Linked DNA regions of Homo sapiens: region 1 is linked to region 2. The links come from fine-mapping of genetic effects on gene expression. A gene starts in region 2. The other region holds a variant in brackets. All regions are shown on one strand. Distances are between the middles of the regions.

The links. PIP is the estimated chance that this variant, and not a neighbour inherited with it, causes the effect.
Region 1: its variant is fine-mapped to the expression of KRT74 in whole blood (TOPMed, PIP above 0.99).

The regions. Positions count from the first base shown.
Region 1 is chr12:52,590,874-52,605,141 of GRCh38, forward strand. KRT72 (keratin 72) reads right to left here and starts at 10,590. Exons shown (of 9, transcript NM_080747.3): 1 at 10,154-10,590; 2 at 8,025-8,239; 3 at 2,019-2,079; 4 at 1,523-1,618; 5 at 591-755; 6 at 1-88. The coding sequence starts at 10,579. The variant C/A (reference allele first, on the strand shown) is at 9,979.
Region 2 is chr12:52,570,256-52,584,873 of GRCh38, forward strand. KRT74 (keratin 74) reads right to left here and starts at 3,588. Exons shown (of 9, transcript NM_175053.4): 1 at 3,052-3,588; 2 at 2,198-2,412; 3 at 1,689-1,749; 4 at 1,104-1,199; 5 at 414-578. The coding sequence starts at 3,522. RefSeq lists an enhancer at 2,013-2,182.

The DNA.
Region 1 (14,268 bases), 20 kb after region 2:
GGATCAGGCGGTTGAGCTCAGAGATTTCAGCCTTGGTGAGCTTGAGGTCATCCCCATGCTGGCCTGCTGTGACCTGCAGCTCCTGGATCTGAGGTTGGGTGACAAGAGAAGAGGAACACAAGGATCCTACTGAACTAGGGCAGGTCCCTTTTCTTCTGGACAGAAAGGATCCTGCCCTAGTTCAACAAGATCCTCAGGTTCTCAAACATGAGAGCCTTGGCAGAGTGTGAATTTCCTATCCTCATTTTGCCAAAGTGGAAACATGAAGATAAGACAATATATGTGAATTACCCATAGAAACTGTGTCAGAATCCTATCAGGGTTGTAGCTGGTGTGGCCTCAGCCAAGGGCCGTGATAGGAGAAGGGCTAAGCCCCATATATGTCCGCAAAACAAGCCAAGACTGTAGTTAATCTCCCTTACCCCTGGGGTGGCATTTCCGCAAGGCCCAACTTCAAGACAAAGGAGGTCTTGACTGAGCCCAAATACACACACACACACAAACACACGCACACACACGTACACATGCACACATACTGAGAGGGTGCTAGCTGTGGCCAGTGGGACTCAGCACACCTGGCACCAGCTCACCTTGGTCTGGTACAGGGTCTCAGCCTCGGCCTTGCTCTTTAGGGCAATCTCCTCGTACTGGGCACGGACCTCGGCAATGATGCTGTCCAGGTCCAGATCCCGGTTGTTGTCCATTGACAGGACGATGGACGTGTCGCTGATGTGGGACTGGATCTGAGTGATCTCCTGGGGACGGTTGGGGGAGGGGAGCTAGTTAAGGGGTACTCATGAGGAACCAGTTCTCTTGGTCCTCCCTGGGCAAATTCCTCACTGTCCCTCTGCCTTTCCTCAGCGTTTGAACTCTGCCTCAGCACCAGTGCCTGGCAGGCACGTGAAGAAGTGCCTTAGGCTTTCAGCCCCAAACGCTGAGACTCCTCTCTCCATTGCACACTCAGGAGCACTCCTGCACCCTTCTACATTCTCATCCTCAGAAACCAGCCACCGCCACCCTCCACCCATAGGACCAAGTCTGAACTCTTTACCTAGCATGTGAAGTCCCCTAGGGAGTCACTAGCACCAGTCCCTTCCCCAGGCCTCTGCGCCCTTCTTCATTCCTCATGCTTTAGCACAGGACAGGCTCCTGGACCTTCTATTTTTCTGCCCCCCTCAGCACCCACTGAAATCGTCCTCTTTCTCCTCTCTCTCCAAGAACCTTCACTGATGGCCCAGGCAGAACCCACCATTCCTTCCTCTGCTCTCTGAAAGCTCAGCTACGTGGTGTTTTCCTGCCAAGCTGTGAACTCCTGGAGGGCAAGAATCACTTCTTCTCTTTCACGGACTCCTCAAAACCTAGCTCATTGTTCAGCACCCAGTAGGGCCTTGGTGAATGTCAGGGGCACCAGGTTGAAAGCTTTCTCCCTCCCAATTCTTGGTCCACACCACCTTCCAGCCAGGGGCCAGAAACCTCTTGTTAAAGGAGCAGATCTCACAAGAGAGGTCAGCCAAGTCCTTACCCCTTCATAAAGGCACTTGAAGAATTTAATCTCATCTGTCAAGGAGTCCACCTTGGCCTGGAGCTCAACCTTATTCATGTAAGCAGCATCCACGTCCTGGGAGCACATGATAGTCAAGCCGCCCTGAGAGGGCCTCCCCTGCCCATCCCTCCCTCCCTGCCACAGGAAGCCTTGCTCTTTCCTCTCCCTTCACCCTGTGCTTCATGGGGGGCTCCCTGAGAGTCCCCTTCAGTCCCTGAGAGTAAACCAACTAACGTGCAGTGCAATGGCTACACCAGTAGTGCAGTAAAATGCCCAGATTTTAGACTGGCAAATTCTAGAAACAGCATGCATCCCAGGCAAGGGACTTGGAGGGAGGGGCTGGGAAGTTAGAGTGCCAGTCACCCCTGCCCAAGGGACTGAGTGACCTACAGGGCCCCTTTCCTCACCCTACAAGCATCATTGTGCCAGGTGGTCAGGTCTAGGCTTCTTCCAGCCCACCTGGCACCCCTCTTACCTTCTTGAGCACCACAAACTCATTCTCAGCAGCTGTGCGTCTGTTAATCTCCACCTCATACCTGCATGGGGCAAGACAATGAGGTAATTCAGTTCTGCAAACACTCACTGAACAGTTAGTGACCACCTCTGTGCTGAGAGCTGCAGGGTGGGGGTCTTCAAACTGGGATTCCCATACCCCTGGGGCACACATAACCTTGCTTAAGAGGATGCAGGCAAGGACATAGTTAAAGGAATCAATTTCCAGCTCCTTTGTGCCTGTGCATTCTGTCTTAAAACTACCTGCCTCAGAGAGCACCTGTGGTTGAGATGTCATGCAGACTCTACTGTCCCTCTCCCTGTCACAATTAGCCCCTCCCACATTATAGCAGAGGTGAAAAGACACTCCCTTCTGGCACATGGCATCTTAATACTGTGCAATGGCTCAGGGTGCAAAAACCTCCTAGGCACCAAACAAAAGCACCATTCTCACTTTCAAACTGTATGTTATACCTATTTCTTATACATATTTCTGTTCCAGGTGAAGCAGAAACAGAAGCAAGGTCTAAGACACAGAAATGTGGTTAGGACTGGGATGTTCTTAATACAGACATATTGTTGATTGGGGAGGTAAGAGTACTAACCATTTTATTTAAAGAGCTTACCTCTTCCATCCCTTATTATTCTCAAAGAATGCATTACAGGACATTTGTGAGAGTATGGTAACGAAATAGAGCATTGGTAAGAAATAATTAATGCTAAATGGATAAGCAAAATGTGGTGTATACATACAATGGGATATCATTCAGACTTAGAAAGAAAAAAAATTCTACAATATGCTACGACATGGATGAACCTTGAGGACCTTTTGCTAAGTGAAAGAAGCCAATCACAAAAAAGACAAATATTCCAAAAGACAAATGATCTCATTCATGTGAGATACTTAGAGTAGTCTAAGTCAGAGACAGAAAGTAGAATGGTGGGAGCCAGGGGCTAGGAAGAGGGGAGGGAAGAAATGAGGAATTAGTGTTAAGTGGGTATACAGTTCCCATTTCACTAGATGGAAAGCGTGTTCTGGAGGTGGACAGTGGTGATGGTTGCACAACATTATGAATGTATTTGATACCACTGAACCGTCCACTGAAAAATGGTTAAGATGGTAAATTTTGTTATATGTATTTTACCATAGTAAAACTTTGAAAAAAAGAATTAAGGCTAGATAGTAGCTTTTTTATTCATGTACTTAACATAAACAATCCTTTTCAGCTCTTCGCTCATTCCTAAGGCATGTCCCTGGAAGCCCCCTCCTCAAAAAGCACTGTTGAGTGTGGCAATTCCTCAAGGATCTAGAACTAGAAATACCATTTGACCCAGCCATCCCATTACCGGGTATATACTCAAAGGATTATAAATCATGCTACTATAAAGACACATGCACACATATGTTTTTTGTGGCACTATTCAGAATAGCAAAGACTTGGAATCAACCCAAATGTCCATCAGTGATAGACTGGATTAAGAAAATGCGGCACATCTACACCATGGAATACTATGCAGCCATAAAAAAGGATGAGTTCATATCCTTTGTAGGGACATGGATGAAGCTGGAAACCATCATTCTGAGCAACTATTGCAAGGACAGAAAACCAAACACCGCATGTTCTCACTCACAGGTAGGAATTGAACAATGAGAACACTTGGACACAGGAAGGGGAACACCACACACCGAGGCCTGTTGTGGGGTGGGGGGAGGGATAGCATTGGGAGAAACACCCAGTATAAATGATGAGTTAATGGGTGCAGCAAACCAACACAGCACATGTATACATATGTAGCAAACCTGCACGTTGTGCAAATGTACCCTAGAACTTAAAGTATAATAATTTAAAAAAAAAGCACTGTTGAATGGCTGAGCAGTGCAGGGTAGTGAAGGGAGCTATTTCAAATGTGACTGGGATGTTTTCTGAGGCTGCAGATCTTTCTAGTTATGCTATATAAAACACACAGAAAGCAGTTTATATGATTTATCCCAGATTCTGTGTCTTATTCAAAAGATAACTGAAACCTTTTAATCAAATTATGTCATGAAACAGCTATTTCTATTACAGTCAATCTTTATTTTATATTATCTTACAAAAAGATTAATAATGTCTACCCCCTCTTAATAAAAATAAGACATATGGTAGTTGCCGGACCAATTAATTTTTAGTAGTTTATATCTATTTCCTAAAATACATAGAAAACTTTTGACCAAGTGGGCTATCAAAATCAATGACATTAGCTGTAAATAATTTTACATTATTTACTTCTAGAGGCCAAACACCAGAGTTCAATACACACATTAAAAAGAAAAATAAGTTTTATAGCATTATTAACTTAAAAATAACTTATTATTTAAAAATATATTACAATGAATAATTAAAAGTTAAATCATTAAAAAGTACATATTGATTTCTCTTGTTTTATAACATAAATAGTTATATTAGTTATATTAAATCTAAATCATTTTAATCTTGAATGCTTTCAATAACCTATTATACAAGACATATTTCTTAGTTTATTCTGAGTGGATTTTATAACAGTCCCTAAAGTACAAATTCTTACTTTTACTTGAATTTAGAAATGAAGTCAGGATTTTTCTGATGAAAAGCAACTCATGTCTCTGATTTGAATATGAAAATTGGTTTTTCCAATGAAGCTAGAGGGCAGATATTTTCTATATAAATTGAATGAGGTAAATCTGCAGCTCCAGAGTTTCAAAAATGTGCCAGTGTGTGTATTCGTGTACAAAAACATGAGGCAGAATCACATTATTTTTTAAGGATAAAGAATTGGCATAGGTGTATTGAGTACTAACAATGTTTTATGTTTCCAGTTCTTTCTGATCCATTGGATTAAACGTGGTGCTCCTAAAGGACAGAATAAGTTGTATAAGCATGGCCATTTGATCAGTCTTGGTAAAGCCTTATTGAAAAATTTTCCAGAAATTTGGAAGATAATGACTTTACTGACTAGGAAACAAGTTCTTTTTGCAAGTCAGATGGTTTTTAATTTTTGCTTTCAAAAAAAGAAGGATTTGAATTGTCAGCTGACAGATGGTTAAACATGATCTTTAATGGTGAGTCATTATGTGATTTTGACATGTAATCATTCACCTAAGAAAATATGTGTTGAGTGTGGGGTACTTTGTAGGCACAAAACAAAACAAATATCCCTGCCCTTAAGAAGCAGAGAGAGACAAATAACAAACACAACAAATAAGTTGTGTCAATCATGCAGCATGTTAGAAACAGTAAGCACTATGGAAGAAAGAAAAAGCAGAAAAACTGGAAAGGCATTCCGAGAACTAAATAACACTGGGCTTGCAAAACTCCTTCCATTAAAATCTACTTCTATAATTAAAGTTTCCCAGCACTCACCTAAGAATGGAAAACACACAGGACTAGAATCCTATCTCAGCTCAATAAGAATCAATATTCATACATGGATAACTAAGCCACTTAGAAAAAAATCTGCCCCATTCAACTCATTAGGAAAAGTATTTTCAATTTTTTTTCATTTTTTATGTTTAATACTTATTTAACAAAATTAGCAATACATTTCGTTGTTTGGATAACTCAACCCAAAATAAGTCTTTTGACATTTAAAAACTTATGATCACAAAAGGTAAACTTTCTTTTTTTCTTTCTTTTTTTTTTTTTAGACAGAATCTTGCTCTGTCACCCAGACTGGAGTGCGGTGGCTTGATCTCAGCTCACTGCAACCTCTGCCTCCCAGGTTCAAGACATTCTAATGCCTCAGCCTCTGAGTAGCTGGGAACACAGACGCACGCCACCATGCCCGGCTAATTTTTTATATTTTTTGTAGAGACAGGGTTTCGCCATGTTGGCCAGCTGGCCTCGAACTCTTGAGCTCAAATGATCCACGTGCCTCAGCCTCCCGAAGTGCTGGGATTACAGGCCACAAGAAGTAAACTTTCTAAGGTTTCGAGATACATGCATATTTTGTGATAGGGTGATCAATAAAAGACTTAGAGGCATAAAAATATATTATAACAAAATTATGTGGGGAAAGTGGGATGAAAATTGGAGTCCAAACAGGAAAAGGATCAAGGTAAAAGTTATGATTTTTAAAGCAGAGCCCATTCATTGGCTTTTTAGATGAAGGGTGATGGGCGCTAACCTGCTGCAGCACCTGGATGCAATTGGGTACATCTCAATGAGTGATGTGGCTATTACAATTTTAAATGGGAACACACATAATACGTTTGAAATTACACCCTTTGAAACTACTTACACTTATGATTAAAAGGTTGTAGTTTCAATTTTTTAACTGTGAAATGTTTTAATTGTGAAGAGTTTTTTAAAATCATTTTAGAGAGCCTATGAGAAAAGCTTCAGCGTATACAATGATGCTTAAGACATATACACTGTGCATCTTCTAGAAACTCACAGTTTAACAGGAAGGCAAATGCACTGAAAATTCTAATTCAACAATGACATATGATTAGCATTTCTTATGATATATCATAAGAGAGATGCAAAAACCTGGCATGAGGACCCACAGGTGGAAGAGATGGGTGATAAAATCAGTTTTAAAATACTCCTAGTAAATGCAGCTAATATTTATTGTACCCCTTACTACATGCTAAACACTGTGCTAAATTCTTAGCACAAATTATTTCATTTAATCCCCACGACAGCCCTATGAAGTAGATTCTATTATTATTCCAATTTTATAGATGAGGCAAAAGACATGAAAATACTTGGCCAAGGTCAAAATGCTAGTTACTAGTGAAGCTAGGATTCAAATCCAAGCCTTCTGACATAGGGAAAACAATGCCTTACATTTGTGTAGCACTTGGATTCTTTTCAAAGCTGCTAATACACTACTGTCTGGCTGGCATTATCCTCTCAATAGCTCTTTTAGGTAGCAAGGCAAGTATCAGTATTTAGTTTTCATAAATACTAAAACTAAAGTTCACAGAGGACACAGAGACTCATCTGTGGTTGCTCAACTAGTTCATGGTGATTCAGGAGCACAAAGCCACTCCAGTCTGAAAGGCCCAGAGATAGCACTGCCCCTGGACGCCTCCATGTGGGACTTCAGGACTGTGTCTGGCAGCCCCCTGTTCTTTCCAGACCCTGCTTGCATCTCTAGTTGGGCTCCAGTTCCCATCTTAATTCCACCTATCTCAGTTCACACCATATTTGTTTCTTCTTGTTGGTGGCTATCTGAAACTGTTCTTTAAGCCTGTCCTCACAATCTGTGTGCTCTCTGAGGTCAGGGACCGTGTCTCCTCCTTCCTTAGGTTCTCCATGCAGGGCTTGGGCCAGGGTTCTGCTTTGAAGGAATTTCAGAATAGGGATGGGCAGGTAGATTGAATATGGAGCAAGAGAAAGAACTCAGCTCTGACGACCTCCAGCCACTTGAATTGTGGAAGAAGCCACCTGTCCCTAGAAATCCTGGCATCTGGAAGCAAACTTCCAAAATATCAGGTCACACTGAGCCTTGATTTATTACTGTCTCATATTCAGCTCAACTTGGAGGAGGACACAACCTCTGGTTCCATCTCATTCTCAATCATCCTCAAACATTCTCAATTATTCTCTTTAAAGCCAGGATTCAGCAGCACAGCCATGATTCAACATGGAATAAGTTTTTTAAATTCTTTTTTTTAGATTTAAAATTTGCCCTGGAATTGGTGGGGTGTCTTACATTCTGGGAACTGCCATGGAAAACTTCACTCAGGAGGAACTACAAAGGCATTTGGGTTGTCCATCTGGTTTTGATACAACTCTCTTTCCCCCATTCCTTCATTTTCAGTGCTAGAAATTGAGCACACATTTCCTCGACAGTTTGGAGAACCGGTGTAGGTAGATCTATTCTTTTCCTAGTTCCATTCTGTCTGGATGTTCCTCCCTCCCCCGGTATCAGCAAGGATCTCAGAAGCAAAAATGCCATCTCCAAACGAAAACCTCATTTGAAATCAGATCCTCCAGGGCCATATTCCCTGCCACTCACTCACCTCTTCTTGTAGTCCTCCACCAAATCCTGCATGTTCCTCAGCTCCGAATCCAGCCTCACCCCGTCCCCAGACAGCATCTCCAGCTGCTTCTGCAGGTTGCTGATGTAGCCCTCATAAATGGGCTCCAGGTTCTTCCTGCAGTTGTTCAAGTCCAGCTGCTGTAGGAGGTTCCACTTGGTCTCTAGCACCTGATTCTGCTGCTCCAGGAACCGCACCTGGAACCCAAAGGCAGTCATCGCCCAGAGTCCCCATGTTGTTGCCTCTCAAGAGTGGGGAAAGGGCCCCAAAAACCAGAGGCAGCCATCCTGGGGGACTGGGGGTAGGAGAAAACAAGGCTTATCCCGGGGTGGATTCAGCCGAGGGACATGCTCACCTGGATCTCCAAGACAAGAAATAGGACCCGGTCTATATGGAATCAGGAAGAGGGCTTAAGCAATGGTACCATCTGCCTCTGCCTCAGTGAGTTTTCATGAGACAGAGGTAGCTTCTCATGCTATAAATGCTGGTGTTTTCTGAGTAAAGAGAAATGGGGAGCAGGGGAGAAACAGGGACTGGGGAGTGACATTGGAAAGCACACTGGCATTTAGAGCGTTCCTCCTGTTGTGTAGCCTAAATTGCACTTGGTTTGTTCATTTCTTTGTTGTTCACAGCAAGTTACCACATCTTCACAAAGTTCCTTCATACTTGACCAGGGTGCACATTTTTAGACTCAATAACTCCAAGCCCTCTGCCACACACCAGCATTCCTCTTCTCACCTATCTTTCAGCTTGAGGGGCAGAAGGAAACATGCTAGGGAACAACAGACATAAAAGAGCAAGAGAATGCTCTGGCCTCTGGAATAGCTGCTGTGTTTCTTCCATGCAGACCTGTGCCCTCCCGCCACCTCAATTCCTCTTCCCTAGCATAGTGGTGACACTCGGTCCACCACCAACTGTCCTGTCCAAGGTGAGCTCATTTCTTAGCCTCCCATGTCTTAATATCCTCATCTGCAAGGCAGAACAACAACAGAATCATGGGTTGTGATTGTAAATGAGAATCACTTGGGACGGCACCATAAATGTCAGCTATTGTTATCAGGCTGTCCCCTTATCACTCACCGTCTAGACCTTCCATCCAGGTGGAGACAAGAGAAGTCCATTCCCTGTCTCCTCTCCACTCACTGGGGTCATTGCCTCAGAAGCTCCAGAGACAACTTCCCTATTACCCCAATTTCTGGATGCCCCACCCTCAGCACACACCTGTAACTTTACATGCACTCTTTCCAAGTGCCTCCTCAGCCTCACCCTTCAGTTTTCTGGCCCTTTTCTCTCACCTCCTCTATCATCTTCCTGGCTACACACTTACCCCACTCCTCAAGCACCAAGCACCATGTCCTGCAACGTCTCTTGGCCTCTGTTCCTAATGCCCTGCCCTGAATGTGGGTCCCATCTCCTCTTCTGATATTGGGAGCTCTCAAAGTGCCCATTCCTTGGACATCCTGACCCCTCCCTTCTCACAGTCTTGTCTCATGCAAGAAAGAAATGAAGGTCCTTGATACGTTTTGGCTGTGTCCCCACCCAAATCTCAACTTGAATTAAGTCTCCCAGAATTCCCACGTGTTGTGGGAGGGACCCAGGGGGGAGGTAAATGAATCATAGGGGCCGGTCTTTCTCCTGCTATTCTCCTAATAGTGAATAAGTATCACGAGATCTGATGCGTTTATCAGGGGTTTCCGTTTTTGCTTCTGCCTCATTTTTCTCTGGCCGCCGCCATATAAGACGTGACTTTGGCCTCCCGTTATGATTCTGAGACCTCCCCAGCCATGGAGAACTGTAAGTCCAATGAAACCTCTTTTTTTTTTTCCCAGTCTCGGGTATGTCTTTATCAGCAGCATGAAAATGGGCTAATACATCCTGTTTATTGGAAGTATGTGCCAGGCACTGTTCTGAGCACTTCGTAAACATCCCAATTAAG[C/A]CTCATCGCAACCCACTGGAGTAAGACCCATTATTGTGCCCATTTTACAAATGGAAAAGGGAGGCTCGGAGAGGTTATGACCCGCCCACGCTCCCACACAGCTCGCCAGTGGCAGAGCCAGCACCACTGTGCACATGCGCCCAACGCAGGGACAGGCCAATGCCCGAGGACTCACCTTGTCGATGAAGGAGGCGAACTTGTTGTTTAGCGCCTTGATCTGCTCCCGCTCCTGGGCGCGCACCCTCTGGATCTCGGGGTCCATCTCCACGTTGAGCGGGGCCAGGAGGCTCTTGTTGACGGTGACCTGAGGGATGCCCCCGGGTGGGCACACGGAGGGACACTTGGGCCCCAGCCCGGCGCTGCCGAAGGCGGTGCCCACGAAGCCGCCCAGGCGGCCGCCGCCCCGCCGTGCAGCAGCGCTGAGCGCCAGGCTTCGGCTGCCCCCAAGGCAGGAGAGGCTCTTGCTGCCAAAGGAGGCCGAGCCCTTGACCCGGGCCCGGAATGAGGCGGAGCTGCTGCCGATCCCGCCAGAGAGGACCGCGGAGCAACCGCTGAAGCCCAGGCGCTCCCCGCGGGGGAAATGGGTCAGTTGGCGGCTCATGGCTCGCAAGTACCGGTGCTGGCCGCGCGGGAGGCAGAAGGGGCGCAAACAGCCGCTGCGTTCTCGGCCCAGCTCGCCCCTTAAATAGCCTGGCTGGCTGGAGTCAGCCTAATTTGTATGTCGACAACACCTTTTAGATCCCTTGAGGCCTCTTGGGTTCTTCATGTAGGAAATTACCATGCACTCACCGAGATTTTTGTCTGTTCCACCGTGAACTCCCCATGAATCCCTGTAAAGTGACCCAGAACCCAGCATTTACTTGGCTCACCTCCTGCATTATCATGGCTTAGCGACCTTATCTCCACCTGCTGGCCTCCAATTACTGGGGTTATCACTCCCAAGATCACCCCTGGAAACTTCCAGTGGGGCTGACCCTCTGGGTGTGTGTCTGGGGAGACGGAGGTGTGTGAAGCAGAAGTCCAGGCTGCTTCTGCTTCAGAAGGCCATGAATAGAGTCAAGACTATCGCAGAAAATCATCCTTAGCCTGTCCTCCTCCTGCCTCCCAGGCTTCTGGATGAGGACAGCTCTGTCCCTTGTGCAAGAAGGAAGTTCAGAAGGAGGAGATTTTGGCCCCGTCTGCAGAGACCTCTCAGTCTGTTGGAGAAGGCAGGACACAGAGACCTCTGGTCACAAGTGTTGAGGGTTGACTTTGGACCAGAGCGAAAAGATTTCTCCACTAAGCATTTCTGGACTAAGAATGGGGACCATGCTATCTGGGAGGGAGGGAAGAAGGCCTGGGGAGGTGGTACAGGAAGACTCAGGCATGGTTTAGCAGATGGTGTTTCCTAAGGCTTTCGGTTGTTTTCATTTTTGTTTTCTTTTAATAGCAGAAGAGGCTTATTTATCCCATCCAGCAAACCTCTGCTCAGGTCATTTGCCACCCAGTCATTTCTGATTCAGCATCAAAATGTGATCAGTTATTAGGAAGAGGTCAAGACTCTTCAGATCTAAAACCAAGAACTAGATTCTAGAACTTCATTCCCTTTAAGCTACAGAGGCTCCTTCTTCCACCTAACCCGATTTCCTTTTCTCAAACTTAAGCTGCCTTCAAGTCTCCTCCTCTCTTAGCAACAGCTCTCCTGTTCCTCTGGCATGCAGGTGGGATTATTTCATTGCTCTTATTTCTTAAGCTGCCAGAGTCCTGGGTGTGTGTTCCATTTCCTCTATCAGATTGACAGGGCCCCCTGGATTCACCCTTCCCTCCTCTGCTCCCCCAGTGCTCAGCCCAGGCCTTGGCCAAAGGGACATTTAGGATGATTGTGAAACAGCAGAGTGCTTAGGGCAAGGCTTGTTACTGCACCTTCAGTGATACCCTGAAGGCTGGGTTCCCCTTGGGGACCTCATGGGTTGGTTAAATGGTACCTGGGGGTAATTGGCTGACATAGCCTCCACTGGGCCAATGACAGGACATAATAACAGCCGAAGCGTTTACTCCACGGGGAACAAAGTTGTGAGGGCATTGTTAAGCGCTGGAGATGGCACCGATCACAGATGAACAGATAACGGCATCTGGGTGTCCTAGGTGGGAGAGAGGGTGGGCTCTCAGTGCTGCCTCAGAGGAGGGGCTGTAGTCCCTTCCCTCTGAAGAGGAGAAGGGCAGTGTCAGTGTGGCTGGGTGACAGCAGACCCTTCAAGAAGATCAAGGTTATGTTTTTTATTATTACATGAGATTTTCCCTCTACCCCGTAATTTTAGCCAGTTTTTTTTCCACAAGCACAAAAATGAATTTATTTATTCCAGCCATTGAGAATAGAAAAGCAAGGAATGGATTACACTGAAAGAGGAGAATTTTTACGTAGGATTGACTGACAAAGGGTGTCTTTGAAATAATTTTTTTTTTCTTCCTAGAAATTTTCTAAGGAGTTGAGATATCCTGGGACCAGGGCTCTTCTGCCCAGGGTTAGGGAACTGTAAGATGACCTTTTCTCATCTTCCTATGAGGGGTTGACTGGCTGGATGAATAAGGAATTCCTCAACCCCTGAATCACCTTTATTACAGATCATGAGGAGACACAAGTGACACATGCAGATTTCAAAGGCCTCAGATGTGTGGGGATGTCAGCAGATCAAAGGGGGTTGAGGCCTGGGAGGAGGGGTTCTCATTGCCTCTGCCTCTGACAGCAGCTTACGGTGTCACCTCAGGCCTTGGTGACCACCTCTGTCATTAGTTCTTGGGTTAAAGCAACCCCTGGATTAGTAAACCAGACAAGGAACATTGCCCTTAGAAATCAGATCTTTACTACAAAAGACGGATGAAACCACTCTAGGCTGAGAATTGAAAATGCATTGCTGGTTAAACTGGGTCTCCTTGCCCTGTAACACTACTTCTTGGGAAGTTAATAGGTATCATGGGAAAAAAAGATATGGGAATGGATTCTGTGCTTGGTTTAAAAAAAAATGAAGCAGGCATCTTATTGCAGGACTTTCTAGGCCCATTAACATGCTTAGTGCTAGAGCAATTTTAGGGCAGTGAACTATTCTGTACAGTACTGTAATGATGACTACATGTCATTATACATTTGTCCAAACCCACAGACTTCCCAGTGAACACCAGTGTAAACCAGGGACTTGAGGTGATAATGCTGCATAAGTGTAAGTTCATCAGTTGTAACAAATGTACCCCTATGGTGGGAGATGTTGATAAGGAAGGAGGCTATGCATGTGTGGGGGTAAGGGGTAAATGGGAAACCCAAGTACCTTCCACTCTATTTTGCCGTAAACCTAAAACTGCTCTAATGAATAGTAAACAAATAAATGGATATATAGATGGGTGGGTGGGTAGATGGATGAATGGATGGACAGATGGATGGTATTAAACCATAATAACAGAAAAATGCATGATACTTTCTGTTGCACAAAAGGGTAATACAAAACTTAATGTTTTTCACACCTGATGGCTGAGAGGTGAACTTGTGAATGGGGCAGTGTCAGTGGGTTTTTTTTCTATTTTTTAATATTTCTGAATTTTCTAATATGAGCATATAATGCTTTTATAAATAAGTTATATTTTTCAAAAAAAAAAAAAACTAAAGATGAAAGGAGAGGGAAGTTGATTCTAGAATCGGAAATAAAGTACTGTTCTTGTCACACACAAAAAACCCCCACAAAACTCAGTGTTTTCCAAACCACTTTTTAGGCCATTGAGCCCTCTCTTTGGCCAGATACTTTATGGGGCCAGAGTTTCAAGGAATATACTTTAAGAAACACTAAACAAGATATCTCCACTTCACCATTAAATTGACTTAAATTTCCCAAATCTGAAGAGACTTACAATATCTCCCTAAAAACATGAAGGAGACCTAAATATAATAGGCAGGCTTATCTAGTTTATGGCAATATGGCCAGGGTTGTATTGTCCAAACCAAAGGGAGGTAGTTTGCATGGACTCCTGAGAGCATGGCCAGCATCATCCCTGCACTGGCCAAGGGAGAGAGAATTCTCAGCCTGGTGATGAGCATTGGGTATCTAGACTGAGCAAGGTGAGCCACAGACTGCCAGAGCTCACCAAATAACCTTGCTCTCCTCTCACTTCCCAGCCTCCTTTGCAGTTCTGGTGGGGCTTGGGGTCATGTGACTAGCACTGGCCAATGAAACATGAGTGGCATTGAAGTGTGTCATTTCTGGGGTAGGGCAGTAAGCAGGTCATGTGCCTCCTCCATCTCTTTTCCCCTGTCTGGTGACCTTGGAG
Region 2 (14,618 bases):
GAAAGAGCTACAGGCTTCTCCTTCTCTCACTCGCCCCCCACCAAATTCACCCATGGCTACACTCCCGCAAGTCTGTGATTCTCCCTCTGCCCTGTGGCAACATGCCCCCATTCCTATAAGTGTGTTTGTTTTACCACCTCACTTCTTTCACCTGCAACAGAGAGGAACAGGCAGTTCGTGGATGGAGGAAAGAAGTGAGGGATCCTCTCTGTTGCATATATTCAATCCATACCAGTTTCATGATTTATCTTTGATAACAAGCTCTGCTAAGAATTCCTTTTTTCCTTGAAGCCTTGGTTGGAACCTTTCTTTCATTCAGCATGCCCACAAAAGTATTCCTCACATTCACTGTGCAGGTGACCCCTCCCAGGAAGCGAAGGGCTGCTGTGGGAGGAGACCCATTCGGTGACCACCTTGGTCTGGTACAGGGCCTCGGCCTCGGCCTTGCTCTTCAGGGCGATCTCCTCATAATGCATGCGGACCTCAGCGATGATGCTGTCAAGGTCCAGGTCCCGGTTGTTGTCCATGGACAGGATGACAGAGGTCTCACTGGCGTGAGTCTGGATCTGAGCGATCTCCTGCATTGAGAGAGGAAGACAGATTCAGCAACCCCCTGGCTTCCCTCTTCTGCCCCATCAGTCTTCTGGGCCCATGGTCCCTGGCCCAATAGGCTGCTAGGATCCACGGGGACAAAGTAGGGGGAAGAAGTGCCCTCTGGGATGTGTCTGCAGAGCTGAGGGAGAGCAGCTAACAGCAGCAGGAACCCCTGCATATGGCAGATGCCCGCTGGCACATGCAGACGGGTGAATAATGCATTTTCCACAATTTCACAGAATCCAAGGCTCTGTGCTTTGTAAGACCTCACTGGGTTATCTTTTCCTGCCCGTGGGCAAGTCCACTATTGTATCAAGATCAATTTCCTCCTGTATGTATGGCCTCCAAGGACCAGCATCCTGCACTTCCATGGTCTCCTGGTGCAGGGTTTTGTACCTTTCTACCAAAACATCTTTCATTTTGTTGATCCTAAATCTCTCCTTTTGGTATCTCCCTGGAAGAGTCGGGAAGGAGGCAGGGTGAGGGTGGGGGGACAGGAGTGTCCTTACTGCATCATACAGACACTTGAGGAACTTGATTTCTTTGTCCAGTGAGTCCACTTTGGCCTGAAGCTCCACCTTGACTGCGTAGGCTGCATCTGCATCCTGCCAAGAGGCCCCAGAGTCATTGGGGGATGCAACCCTCATCCCACAGCTGCCCTGCCCAACTCCTGCCTCAAAGCCACCTGATTTTCTATTTTCTACCCACAAAGGAAAGCTCACTCAATATCAATTTCTTCTCAGGCTGCCTGAAGCTTTGGGAATAGGGAAAGGAGGATGGGGCAGCTCTGTTATGCCTGGAGAAAACAAAGCCCAGAGAGGTAGTAGGTTTCCTCAGGTCACACAGCAAGGTTGAGCTGGACCCGAGTTTCACAGTTCCCAGACCAGAATTCTGTCTGTCTCTGTCCATTTCCTGAGTGTGTGTCTTTCCTCTCCAACTCACTGGAGGCCAGGACTATGACTCCACCCTCACCAGGCACCAGCCCCCTCACCAGGCACCAGCCCCCTCCCCAGCCTCCTGGGCTGAAGTCCTGAGCAGAGTTGTTAAGATGGGGGTGCGAGAGACCCTAATAAGGAGGCTCCTCCCTCTCTTACCTTCTTAAGCACCACAAACTCATTCTCTGCTGTCGTGCGCCGGTTAATCTCCACTTCATATCTGCCAGCAGGGAGAGTAGATGGCCTTAGCCCCCTTAGCCAAGGAACTTTCTCTTCCTGCTGGCCAGGCAAATGTTTGGGATACAGGGTCCCTGCAGGGTCTCTGGGGTGAGCAGTAAGAGGCTAGTGACAGGAGTAAGATATCCCTGAGTTGCTTCACTTGTCTCCTAGTTTTTGCATGTTAGGAAAACACCCAGGTGCCTATTGGGCTCCCGACACCAGCAACTGAACATTTCAGTGGGTCAAGGAGCACAGGAACCGCTTCCTATCAACTAGGCAGGAAGTTATCATCAAAGAGGATAGGCCCTTCCCCCTAGCCAGAGAAAGGGATGTGAGCTCCTGACCCTGGTGCATACTCCCCCATCTCCTAAAAAATAATGGCACAGAGATCAGGTGAGCCCAGAGGCACGGGAAACATGGTCTGTGACCCTCGGGTGGAGCCTGCTCACCTCTTCTTATAGTCCTCCACCAGATCCCTCATGCTTCTCAGCTCCGAGTCCAGCCTCACCCTGTCCCCAGACAGTGTCTCCAGCTGCTTCCGCAGGTTGCTGATGTAGCCCTCAAGGATGGGCTCCAGGTTCTTCTTGCAGTTGTTCAGGTCCAGCTGCTGCAGCAGCTCCCACTTGGTTTCTAGAACCTGGTTCTGCTGCTCTAGGAAGCGTACCTGGAACCCAAATCAACAGACACCTGGAACCACAATGGGTGCAGTCATGCCCCCTGGACACACACCATTGACTCCCCAGGTTTGCCATAGATTGTTGTAGTCATTTTTGCTCATGTCTTGACTCTCCACCCTTGCCATTCCACACAAACTAGATCCTTTACAAGTGCTCATTTCCTAGCCTTCTGGACAAGGCATCACTGAGAACTCACTCAAGGAGTTTCCACAGCTTTCTTCTATTGCTCGGCCCTGGTCCCAGGAGATGTCCTTCCTTATGTCTCAACTAAGTGTCTCTTCCTGTACCATGAGCCCTTCCCTCTGAACACTGCTGGATTCTATTAGCCTTTCATGTTCTTGGAAGATCCAGCTGTCCTCAAGAAACTCATCACTTTTTTGTCAAGGAAGGGCTGCTCTTTACCCAGCTTCCCATCCTTCCCTGCAAAATCGCCAAAGAAGCCGATATATTCATGTATTCCTTTGTCCTCCGTGGCTCACAGACCTACTCTCCTTCCCTAATGGTGAGGAAGCCCTTCCTGAGGCCCAGCTGCACCTTTCCAGCCACAGTGTGCAGTCCATTCCCAGGCAGCAGGAAAACTGCTCAGGCCTCAGGGTGCGGCCTCATCCTCCTCCTATGAGACCCACCTTGTCAATGAAGGAGGCGAACTTGTCGTTCAGCACCTTGATCTGTTCCCGCTCCTGGGCGCGCACCTTCTGGATCTCAGGGTCCAGCTCCACGTTGAGGGGGGCCAAGAGGCTCTTGTTGACAGTGACCTGGTGGATGCCCCCAGGTGGGCACACAGACAAACATGCAGGCCCCAGGGCCACACTGCCAAACATACTGCCAGCAAAGCCACTGGCCCGGCCCCCTCCATACCCAGAGCCAGGCCTGAAGCCGTAACCTCCAGCCCGAACGCCGCCACCAGCCACATTGAAAGAAATACGCCGATTCCCTCCAAGGCTATAGAGGCTCCGACTGCCAAAGCCAGCGCCAGCCCCTCTGCCAGCTGCACAGTAAGAAGCCAGGCTACCCACAGCCTTCCTTGGCACCACTGCCGAATGCACACTGAAGTTGCCCTTGTCACCACTGGACTTGATGTTCAGTTGCCGACTCATGGTGGGAAAGGTTGAGTTGACAGAGCTGGAGAAAAGCAGTCTCCAAGGGGTAGAGAACACACTGATGGGGCACCCAGAGTGCTGCCTCCTTTTATCCCTGTTGAGCCCAGGACACCGGAAAAGGGCGTCTCTCCACTATCTCCTTTCCCCTGCTGATGGGCCAGGGGCCATGGGCAATTTGTAGAACAGAGATCTCCAAGCCCTTTGCAGCAACAAAGCTCTTCTGATAGCAAGTGGAATATGCTGCCCTTGCAGAGTGGAGTGGTCTAATTTGGAGTTTATCTGTGCTCCCTAATTAAGGACCTGAAGAGTTATCCCCTGAAGAGATCTCCTAGCTTTATTTTTCCAGTGCTACCTCCTTCTTGCTTAACCATCAGCAAGGAGCAGGGGAAATGCCTGGCTTTCCCCAGAGTAGACTCACCTGAAAAACCCCAGGTTTCTTCCCAAAAGAAACCATCTCTCTATTATAGGGTCTTGTGTGGAAGCTGGAATTTTTACCTCAGGGAAAAGAAGACATGGAAAGATGATTCTTCTTGGAAAGATGTCCTCAAAGATCTGGATCTGGGTAAGAAGCTCCAGGGTCCGTCCTTGGGCCATGCTAAGGACCACAGCTGTCTAGCAGTGAAGTGGACCCCAGGAAGGAAGAGGAATGACTCTGCAGCATCTGCATGCCCCCCTAGCAGGGATATTGTCTAGGGCCTTCTGTGTTGGGCAGGGCCTGGGTGGTGGTGACCTTGACATTGCCTTACAACCATGAGAACCTTTCCAGTCAGCTGCATTTCCTCCAGTTGGATTTTCTCTCCTGGATAAGATTATTTGTCCTACTCTAGGAAGTCAGGCAGGAGCTGGGATATTAGCCCCTGCACTCCCTGGGGAAACACCCTATGGCTGAAGTCACCAAGGAACAGGACCCCCTGAGTTTCACTCCCAGGTTCAGGGTGGGCTGTTCTGCCAGTTTCCTGGCAACTTCAGGGAGCACTCAATTTTCAAACAGGAAGTATCACTGCTTTATAGCTCAGGTAGTGTGGGTACAGTGCAATGTTAAAAAATTATTTCAGGGCTGGGCATGGTGGCTCACACCTGTAATCCCAGCACTTTGGGAGGCCAAGGAGGGCAGATTGCCTGAGGTCAGGAGTTTGAGTCCAGCCTGGCTAACATGGTGAAACCCCGCCTCTACTAAAAATACAAAAATCAGCCGAGCGCAGTGGTGCATGCCTGTAGTCGCAGCTACTCAAAAGACTGAAGTAGAAGAATCACTTGAACCTGGGAGGCAGAGGTTGCAGTGAGCCTAGATTGTGCCACTGCACTCCAGCCTGGGCAACAGAGCAAGACTCTGTCTCCAAAAAACAAAAAAAATTATTTCAAAGCTAGGTATCTGGCAGCTGCCCTCATGCAAGACTCTGACCACTTCCTATAACTAAACTGAGAACACTTGGCTTGTTTGGATCCAGCCGAGGGCAGAAGACAACTGCTCCCACTGCTGGGGAGGGAAAAGGAGAAGCTGACCTGGGCAGGGAGCGTGGAGCTTAGGCCTGGAAGCTGCCCCGGAAGAATTTCCCCTTCACAGGGTGTTTTCCTCTCAGCCCCTGAGGTAACGGTGGAAGGTCCTTCCCCAGGGACCCTGTCTCGGGGGGCTTTCCCGGCAGGGCCTAGCCCTACAGCACAGGAGCATGTAATCGAAGGGGTTGCTTGTGGTTTTCTAAGTCAGGTTGCAAGGGCAGCAGCAGGGGTGCCGCCAGATGCTGGGTTTGCCGCCCTCCTGTGCTGGAGTGTGCAAGACAAAAAATGGCGTGAGTTCCTTAACCTGGGGGTGACTGTCCTAGGGCCCCAGCCACCAAGAAGCCTGCAGACCAATGAGAGGAATCTACACAAAGAACTTAAAGTAGAGCCAAAGCTCTGGAATGACAGAAAAGCATTATGAACCACGAATCAGAGGTGCACTGAGGAATGGCTCATCTTGATTAGGGTTTTTGGGGATCTCCAGAAGCCAGGCTTATATTCCCAACAACGCCCACTACAGGTGCTGGCTCAGAGTAGTGGCTCAGAGGTAGTGGGGCTGGAAGTATTCCTTATGGCAGTAGTAGCAATAGTGGTAGTAACATCATTGTATAATAGTGATGGTAGTAACAGAAAGTGTTAACACTTATTCTTCACTTCACATGTGCCAGGCATGGGATGTCTACATGGGATGTCTCACTTAACCCTCTTTAACTAACTTCATTTACAGTTGAAGAAACAGAGGAACTTACCCATCTCACTCAACTAGTAAGTCAGAGCTGGGCCGGAATTCAAGTGCGTCTGGTTTCAAAGTGCATGTTCCTGACCATCGTGTTATGTGATAGAGATGGAAGTTAGTGGCAAAGATGCAAAGACATTGTGGTACATGTGGCAGGCATGGCAGCTGTGGGCTGGGGACCTTGTGCTTGTGTTTCTGTTGTTTTTGATTCAAGTGTGACATGAGGAGAAGGGGAGGTTGTTGCTGAACTAGGGGCTTGCAAAGGGTAGCTGCTCAAGATAAGACATCACTCTAGGTTCAGAGAGAAAATCAGCCACAGCAAGGATGGGCAGGGGGAAGGAAGAGACTTGCTTTCATGAGCGGCTGTTTTATTCTAGAATCACCAGCAGCTGGCCCTTCATTGCCCGGCTCCGAGGGGAAATAATCATAGTTCTGGCTAGCTGAGTCTTTGCGCCACCACTGCCTGGCTGACTATGAGCCCCAATCTGATAGGAACTTCAACGAAAAGGCATTTACAAAGCAGAAAAGGCATGAGGCTAGATCTTTGAGGCTGGAGAAGACTTAGGGTAAACAAAAGGCAGATATCCAGGTGCCCAGGGAAATGCAGCAGAATGAATGGGGTCCATCCACACTCAGAAGTGATGGGCTGGGGAGGGCCAGGACTAAGGCTAGGGGTCCTGGCACCCTTTGTATTCATTACAAAGGGTGCCCCTGTGGGCTGGGCCCTGTGCTGGAGGCTGGCCAGTAAGGGTTGCTGACAGCGGTGGTAATGATGGTGGCAGAGTGGCTGTGACGGAGAAGGAAAAGGTAGAGGCAGAGTAGAATTTCCTGACAACAGTGTTGTGATTGTGGCCACACAGAAGCAATCCTCCTAATTGGTTCCTAGGGAGCTTAATTGCAGGGGAATTGCCTTTGGCCTATGCAGTCAGATCCCTAGAGTTCCAGCCTTCACTGTTTCGGATACCCTTTAATTAGTAATCACACACCACGCCCTGGTCTTTGAGTTCATTGGACTAATGAGTGTCCCAAGTCCTGAAGAGATTATTTCATTAAATGCATATAAAACTGGGCATCTACTGTGTGTTCAGCTCTATGCTAGACAGGGGGAGATGTCTGAGACACTCTCTTTCTCTTTTAGGAAGTTAATTGAACTGGAGGACAAACAATATAAACATACAAAAGTTGTTTTGCTGTTGTTATTGCTGTAGTTTTAATTCTACATGCCTATATTGGATTATGTGCTTGAACAAGTAACTCAGACAAGCTGTTCATTGAAATTCTGATCTAAAAAAAAAAGAATTTAAAAAGTACATGAAAATCTACTTTTTGCTTACCCTAAATCTTCTCCATCCTTGAATTAAAAAGAAATGGAAAAATAGAATAAAAGAGAGGTTGGGCTCTCTGAGGTAGGGGTTGCTAACTGGAAGGTCGGCCAGATTGGGCAGGTGCATGGGGCATCCCTGAGACACCGAGAGGCCCAGGCGGATTATAAAGGAAGGCTCGACTTGGGAAGCAGAGATGGAGGCAGAGATGGCGGCGCAGGCCTAGACAGTTCCCTTCTCCCTGTAGACAGTGTGGCATCATGCGAGGGTCCTGAGGGGAAGCAGTTTCACAGGGCCAATGCTTTCCGTTAAGGAATAGGCTCTGTGTTGCAAGAGGAGGGCTGTGGAAGACACAGGTACCCCAGGGAACCCAAGGGAGCTGAGTCAATTGGGCCATAATCTCTCATCATCTTCCTGGAGGATAAGAATCCCCTTCTGCAGAGCACCTCACCAGAGGGAAATAAAAAGCAGCCCCGTGAAAAATCCCAATGGCCGTAACCATCATGTCTGTAGTTTGAAGATGAATAGTGAATGTCATTTTTCTCTAGCCCTTTGGCCTTTGACTGCTCCTGGGCACAGAACAACAGTTGAAGGACCCAAATTCTGTAGATCAAGGTCATTAAAGAAAAGAGAAAGAAGGCCAGGCATGGTGGCTCACACCTGTAATCCCAGCACTTTGGGTGGCCGAGGTGGGCAGATCACTTGAGGCCAGGAATTCCAGACCAGCCTGGCCAACATGGTGAAACCCCATCTCTAATAAAAATACAAAAATTAGCTGGGAGTGGTGGCACTGCCTGTAATCCCAGCTACTTGGGAGGCTGAGGCAGGAGAATCGTGTGAACCCAGGAGGCAGCGGTTGCAGTGAGCTGAGGTTGTGCCATTGCACTCCAGCCTGGGGCACAAGAGCGAAGCTCCATCTCAAAAAAAAAAAAAAAAAAAAAAAAGAGAGAGAAAGAAAAAAAGAAGCTTGAAGGATTCTTGAGCTAACTTTGTGGGGACAAGACCTGGGGACAAACCACAGCACCTTAGCACTGGAAAGGACCTGAAACTGAGTTCTCTGATTTCCCTTTGAAAATAAGCTAAGTGCAGAAACCTAATACCCTCTGCCTGTCTGAACCGGTTTGAAAGGAGCCTGTTTTTCCATGCTAGTCCAAAGTTAGCTAGCCCAGACAATAGAGTTCATCTGCTTTTTCCCCATGTGTCTCCCAAAACCCTTCACTTTCCTGACATTAAATTTTCTGTGCCAGGAGTCCGATGACAGATGGGATATGCACCAGAGACATGGGCAGAACCCACTGCTGCAATCCCAGGCTGTAGACATGGCTTGGGGCCTAGTTGGAGTGGGTGTGGAGAGTGAAGCAGAAAGCTCTGTGTTGGTGAGTGGGGGAAGAGGAAACTCTAGGCACAGAGGAATAGGAAAAGCGCCCCAGGCAAGATGATAGGGATTATCTAGATACTATTTTGTAGAGTACTCAACTATCCCAGTTTTCCTAGGGCTGAGAGGTTTTCCAGAATGTCCGACTTTCAGTGCTACAGAAGTTCTGGAAAGTTCTGCACTGTTCTGGAAAAAACTGGACCCTTGAAAACCAGAACGTCATTCACCATATTGGAGAGCTCTGAGTACCCGACTCTCCAGTGGACCCTAAGGATCACTGAAGTCACGTCTACCAAGCTTGTAAAACTTAAACACTCAAGCAATCCCTGGTCTGTCTCCATCCCTACTAGACCCCCTTTTCCCCTCACACACACTCTTGTTAAATGAATTCCTCAGATTATGAGAAGAAAGCAGGTGGCTGGATGGCATCAATTTTTTTTTAATTCCAATCCCTCTCACTCAATGCCTATTCTGCTACAGGCACTGTGCTGAGTGAAATCCCAGACAGGCAGTCAGCATGGTCAAAATTCCCATTTCTTGGTGTCATATTAGTGTAGAGCATATTGTGCAGTAAGCCTCTATTTATTAAACACTTAGCAGAGGATGTTTAGTGACCTGAAACCTGGCAGTTTCCTTATCACTGCTAGTCTTATGGAACTTTCTACCTGCACCTCTCGGGGTAAACGTGGGGGAGCTGCATCTCTGCAGACACCCTTCTCTGAGTCTAGGACCTTCCCCACGTCTTCCCAGCATGGGTGTCTCCCTCCTCTCTGCTGCAGCCCAGCTCAGGAGGGGCATGCTCCACCCTTCCCACCTGGAGAGAGAAACATCAGAGCAGTTTAACCAAGTGGTTGCAGGGCCATATGGTGCCTTTATGCCAATCATGAGAAAAAGGCACCCCTTCCTCTGGGCAGACGCAGCCCTTTCCCAGGGTGCATGGCTGGATTTCAGCCTCTACTTCCCCCGCACTGAGACTTAGTGCTCAGCACAACCTGCACGCCCCTCCAGGGCTGCCCTGGTAGCTTGCCTAAGTCTTGGGGATGGGCTCACGTTCCACAGATGAGTTGGAGCCTCTGGTCAGAGCTGTCCTCCTGCACAAAGGGTCATGGGAGCCTCCTGGCTTCCCCGAGTACTTGCCTCCTTCTCCAGGGCTGCCTGAGATCTGTCTGCCAGTTCCCAGGGTCTTTCCTCTCTGATCCCTGGGGAAAAGTGGTGGTCTCCCAGCTCCCTCATCACTGGAACCCCCAAGGGCTTGTCCACCAGGAACTCTGCCCCGCCTAGCTTTTCTCTGGCTTGGGGATCCGCGGACTACTGTTCATTGTTCCAGCCTGAGTATCCTTTTGTCTTCAGCACCTCCTGGATTGTCTCTCCAAGCTCCTCCATTCTTGGTTCTCTCCCTGCTCGGGCTCCTAAGGTTTTTATGATGGAACAGGCCCCTAGCCACTTACTGTAGATCAAACACTCTTTAGTTCTCTTTCTCTCCTCTTTTTTTTTTTTTTTTTAAAGAAAAGCTCTTTGAACTCTTTACGACTCTACCCACCACCTACCTAGTCATCACAGGGAACTTTTCTCAGCTCCAGTGCACATAGGTATGTGAAGACAAGCACTGTCTTGCCCTGGGAAGGACACATTTCTTCCATTTGTTCATTTTAAAATTCCACTAGGCCCCCATCTGGGCACTATTTAATCCATCTCCTTACCTCAGACCCCCTCCACCTCCCCTCCAGCCACTTCAGGAAGAAATTTATATTGTCTGACACCCCAACCCCCTTTATTACAGGATTCATTTTTGAAAGACAACAGGGAGGCTGGGGGAAATGCCTTAATCTTTTGATCTTCACTGTGAAGTTTGATGCTTGATCCACCTCTTCCTCTGCCCATTTGCAAAGCAAACAAGCAGGCTGTGCATTGGGCTGTAATTAAGCCACATCATCACTAATGACATGCTCTCTATCTCCCATCATCAGAGCATCATACAATCCATCCAAACAGGAAGGAGAAGCCCAGCCCTGCACCGTCCCTGGGGAGTGCTGGAGTGGTGGGTCAGGCCTGGGGTGGCAACTGCCTCCAGTGTGGAAGGAATGACCAGCTTCCCTCCCTGGGCCCACATCATATCTGAGCCTGCTGGGCCCTGGGGAAAGGTGTTAAGAAGGGACAGGAGAAGGGAAGAGATACCAGGCAGGGCAGAAGCACTAGGGGCCTGGACCACCATAGGCAATGTGGAAATTGGGAGGAAGAAACATAAAAGTAGCACATCAAGAAGAAATAGAAGAAGTGGAGACTTTAGAGAAAGGAGCTAGGGAAGGCTGGGTCAATGAGGAGGGGAAGTTGCTGCTGAGGGAAGGGCTAAAAACAGAGAGAATGGAGGATGAACCCCGAGGCTGGGGCAGGGGGCTGAAATGAGCCTTTCAGAGCTCCATGGGAGACACATCCATGCAGCCCCACCCTGCGGGTGGAAGGGATGGTTGGCCTGCTGGATACAGGGAACCTCTCACTGCTGTGGGGTGAGGGACCCTCAGCACCACCCCACCGATGCAGACCTGCCATGGAATTAGAGGCTTGGGTCCGTGGGGCCTAGGGCAGGCTTGACGCTGGCACCTGAGCCTCGGGGTCAGAGAGTGAGCTCCTCCATCTGGAGCCAAGACCACAGCCAGCCCCTTTGGAAAGTTCTATCCCCCTCTCCTACAGAAAAGGAGGCAGGAGATGTTGACACCAGGAGACCAAGTCTCCATCTTCCCATTGTCATGGGCCCCCGCTGAGGCAAGTGGTGTCTTATGCAGGGCTATCAGGTTGGACACACAGCTGTGGGTTCAGGAGGCAGGTTATGAAATAAGCCAGGAGTCTGCAGATCCAAGAGTTGGGGAGAATGACTCACATCATGGGGAAACCCGTCTGGAAGTGAGAACCGGTGAAAGCAGGTCCTGGGTCCTGGTGGCTCCTATTTCAGGGAAGAGGAACAGGGGCAGCGTGGAGCAAGGGTGGGGGCTGCATGTTTTAACAGGGGGCCAAGGAGAAGGCTCAGAGGAACCAGCAGCCCTTCCAGGAAGAGAGAACCTTCTGGAAATGGATGTGGGCTGGGAGGCTGGAGGAGAATGTAATGGGACTGGAACGGAGCCAGAAGCTAGCCTGGCAGGTGTGCCTCAGGTTCGACGAGGCTTGCTTTGCACTAGTCACTGTGCTAAGCTTTTTGCACATTTTAACTCATTTCATCCTCACACCAACCTGTCAGGTAAATACTCTTGTTTTTCCCACATTACAAGTGAGGAAAGAGAAATTGAGCAGAGAAACTGAGTTGCCCACATTGCAGTTATAACTGGGAAAAGAAACAAATCAACAAAAGGATTCAGATCCACACCTGGCCGACTGCAAAATGTGTGTACCTCCACACTGGACTTCTAAGGTCCCTTTCAGTCCTATATCCACCACGCTATGGTTCAGTTCCTGAGCTCGGAGCAGCTTTAATCTAGAACTTGAGCTGCATCTGGAGTTCCAGGAAGAAGAATCTGGAATCTCTCCTGGAGATGGACGAATTGGAAGCAAGAAGGAGGGATTTCGAGGATAAGCCCTCTAAGAGGGGCCTGCATCCAAACGGGGATGCAGCGTGGACGACTTACCGGGGAGGAGGGATGGACAAGCCAATGGCAGCTGGTTTGCAGGAGAGGAGGGACCCTCAACATCTCTGGTGCTCCTGGAAGCTTTGCTAAATGTGAATGTAAGAACTGAGGGGCAGTGCAGAACAATTGTCCTTTGTGTAGTTGCCACTCTATAGGTGGCAGAAGTGGCAGAGCCCCTGAGATGGAGATTGGAAACAGCTGGCAAAGGGCGGCTCAAACCCCAGAGCAGCTGCCAAATGGGACCTAAGCAGTCTTTAACAAGCTCCCTGTCTCCAACAATTCACATCCCTGTTACCGCCTCCTCCAGGAAGCCTTTCCAGATTGTGTTCCTCTCTCAGGCCTTTCTTCCTATGGAGCCCCCTGGCTGTGCCTTGCCAGTGCCTCCATGCCTGGCTCATCTACTGCCTGAGAAAGAAAGAGTTCTCAGAGGAGGGAGGGGTTTGCACACTGTGCAGGCAGGGCTTAGGAGAGGGGGTCTCAGCTGAGTCATGGGGGCCCTCACTCCAAGGACCTCTGGATCAGCACCAAGATTTTCAGGAAAAGCTGTCTGAAGGCCTCAGGTTCTCTAATAAGAGGTGTGGAGGTTCAGGCAGCAGGCAGCATCAGCCCCTGCCCCCTCCTCCTTCCTGTAAGAGGAGAGGCCAGAGAGGAGAGGAAGAGGAGACAGGAGTCAGACCCAGGCAACACAGAGGCTGGGGCCAGCCTGGGCATGCCAGGGAGTGAAACAGCATCCCCTCCCACTGGCAGCTCCGCGAGGGGCGCAGAGCCTGTCTAGGGTCATCCCACGCCCTCTCTGCTGTAGGGAAGTCTTTCCTCCAGAGTCACAGGGGTAGAAAGTGCAGTATCCAGGACCAATGGCAGAGGGCAGTGTGTGCACAAAATAGAGGCACCGAGGGTTTTTCCCCTGCTTGGAAATGAACAGCCAGTGAACAGATAGGAATGTATTTTAGTGAATGGACCCAGTGCCCTCCACCTTTCACTTAGCCCATCTCGGCCAGGTCTCTGGGCAAAGTCCTGCTGTTGGTCCACACCTCTCAGACATGAACCAGCCCACAGCCAGCAAACACAGACGTATGCTTTAAAAATACTAGTAATAACAGTGAGCATCTACAGGTGTCAGACTGTGTTCCAGGCACTGTTTTACTCCCCTTATCTCTTTTCCTATTCTCTGATCTCCTCTAAGGTGAGTTCTTTGAAAGGTAAGGAGGTGTCGAAGCCAGGAGCATAGACTCCAGAATCAGACTGGAATTCAGATCCTCCCATTTACTAACCAGGTGACATTTGGTTAGTTACTTAACTCCTCTGAGCTTCAATATCCTCACAAGTTAAATGGACATTATAATAATCGCATCTTATAAAAATAATACATGTCAGATTGTTGGGAGAATTAATTGAGTTACCAGCCATAAAGTGCTTACCAGAATGAGTGCTGAGAACAGTTTCTGGCAACAGAAAGCACTTCATAATGGCCAGCTTGTATTTATCTTCTTTTACAAGGGCAGGATCTTGCACTAGGCCACTACTGGCAATTAGAAGAGCTAGGATTCAAAGCTAGGTATATGACTCTTCTGCCACTATGCTAGGCCCAAGGGGACCATTTATCTGACAGTCCTGGCTTTGCCAGTTGTCCAAGGATCCACCTTAGTATTTATTTAGATCAAAAGTGTCCCAGTTTGAGTGACTGCCTGCACACAAATGCATATAAGACACAAATTTATTAACACAAATATGTCATATCACTTGCATACCAGACAATTGAGACATGGGTATGTTGTGTGTATATCCAGCTCTTTTTCCCAGGGAAGGTGGGCTAAACTAAGGCATGCATTCCCATGGTAAAAGTGCTGACTGCAAGCCGGACCCTGGAACAAGGGGATGTAGGGCATGGAGTGAGGGACAGACATGTGAGCAGCTGATATGACACCAGAAAAATAGAGTGCCGGCTTTAACACAGGCTCAGGACAGGGCTGTGAGTGTACAAGCCACTGGTCCAGCCCCGGCTGCTCACCAGTGGTGTGAACATGGACAGGTCACTCAGCCATCTGGGACTCGGTTTGCCTGCCTGTAGAATGGGGGTGTGGGGTAGGGAGGTGTTGGGCCACAGCTGTATTGATCCTTCTCATGTAATGCTTGAAGATGGATGGGTCCACCTGGAGGGACCAGGCACCACAGAAATGTGGGTGGTGGAGTCTCAGCCAGGCCACACAGGTGCGCAGGCTGTCCATCACGGGTAATGGACATCTGAGGTTGAGAAAATGATATGTGCAAAGGCCCTCAGGTGTGAAAAGTCTGGCCTGCATGGGGAAAGGCTGGAGAATAAGGTGGGAAACGACACGGGGGAGACAGGATCTCGGGCACTCTGAATGCCATCCTCAAACGAGGTTTGCACTTGAAAGATGGTCTCGCATTAAGGGTTTTTTTCAAATCAACTGTGCTAACTGACTCTGAGAAACAAACATTCTTGCAGAAACACACACATACACACACAAACATACACACACATACACATACACACACACGCAGAGCTAAAAGAGCATCCTTGAATCTCT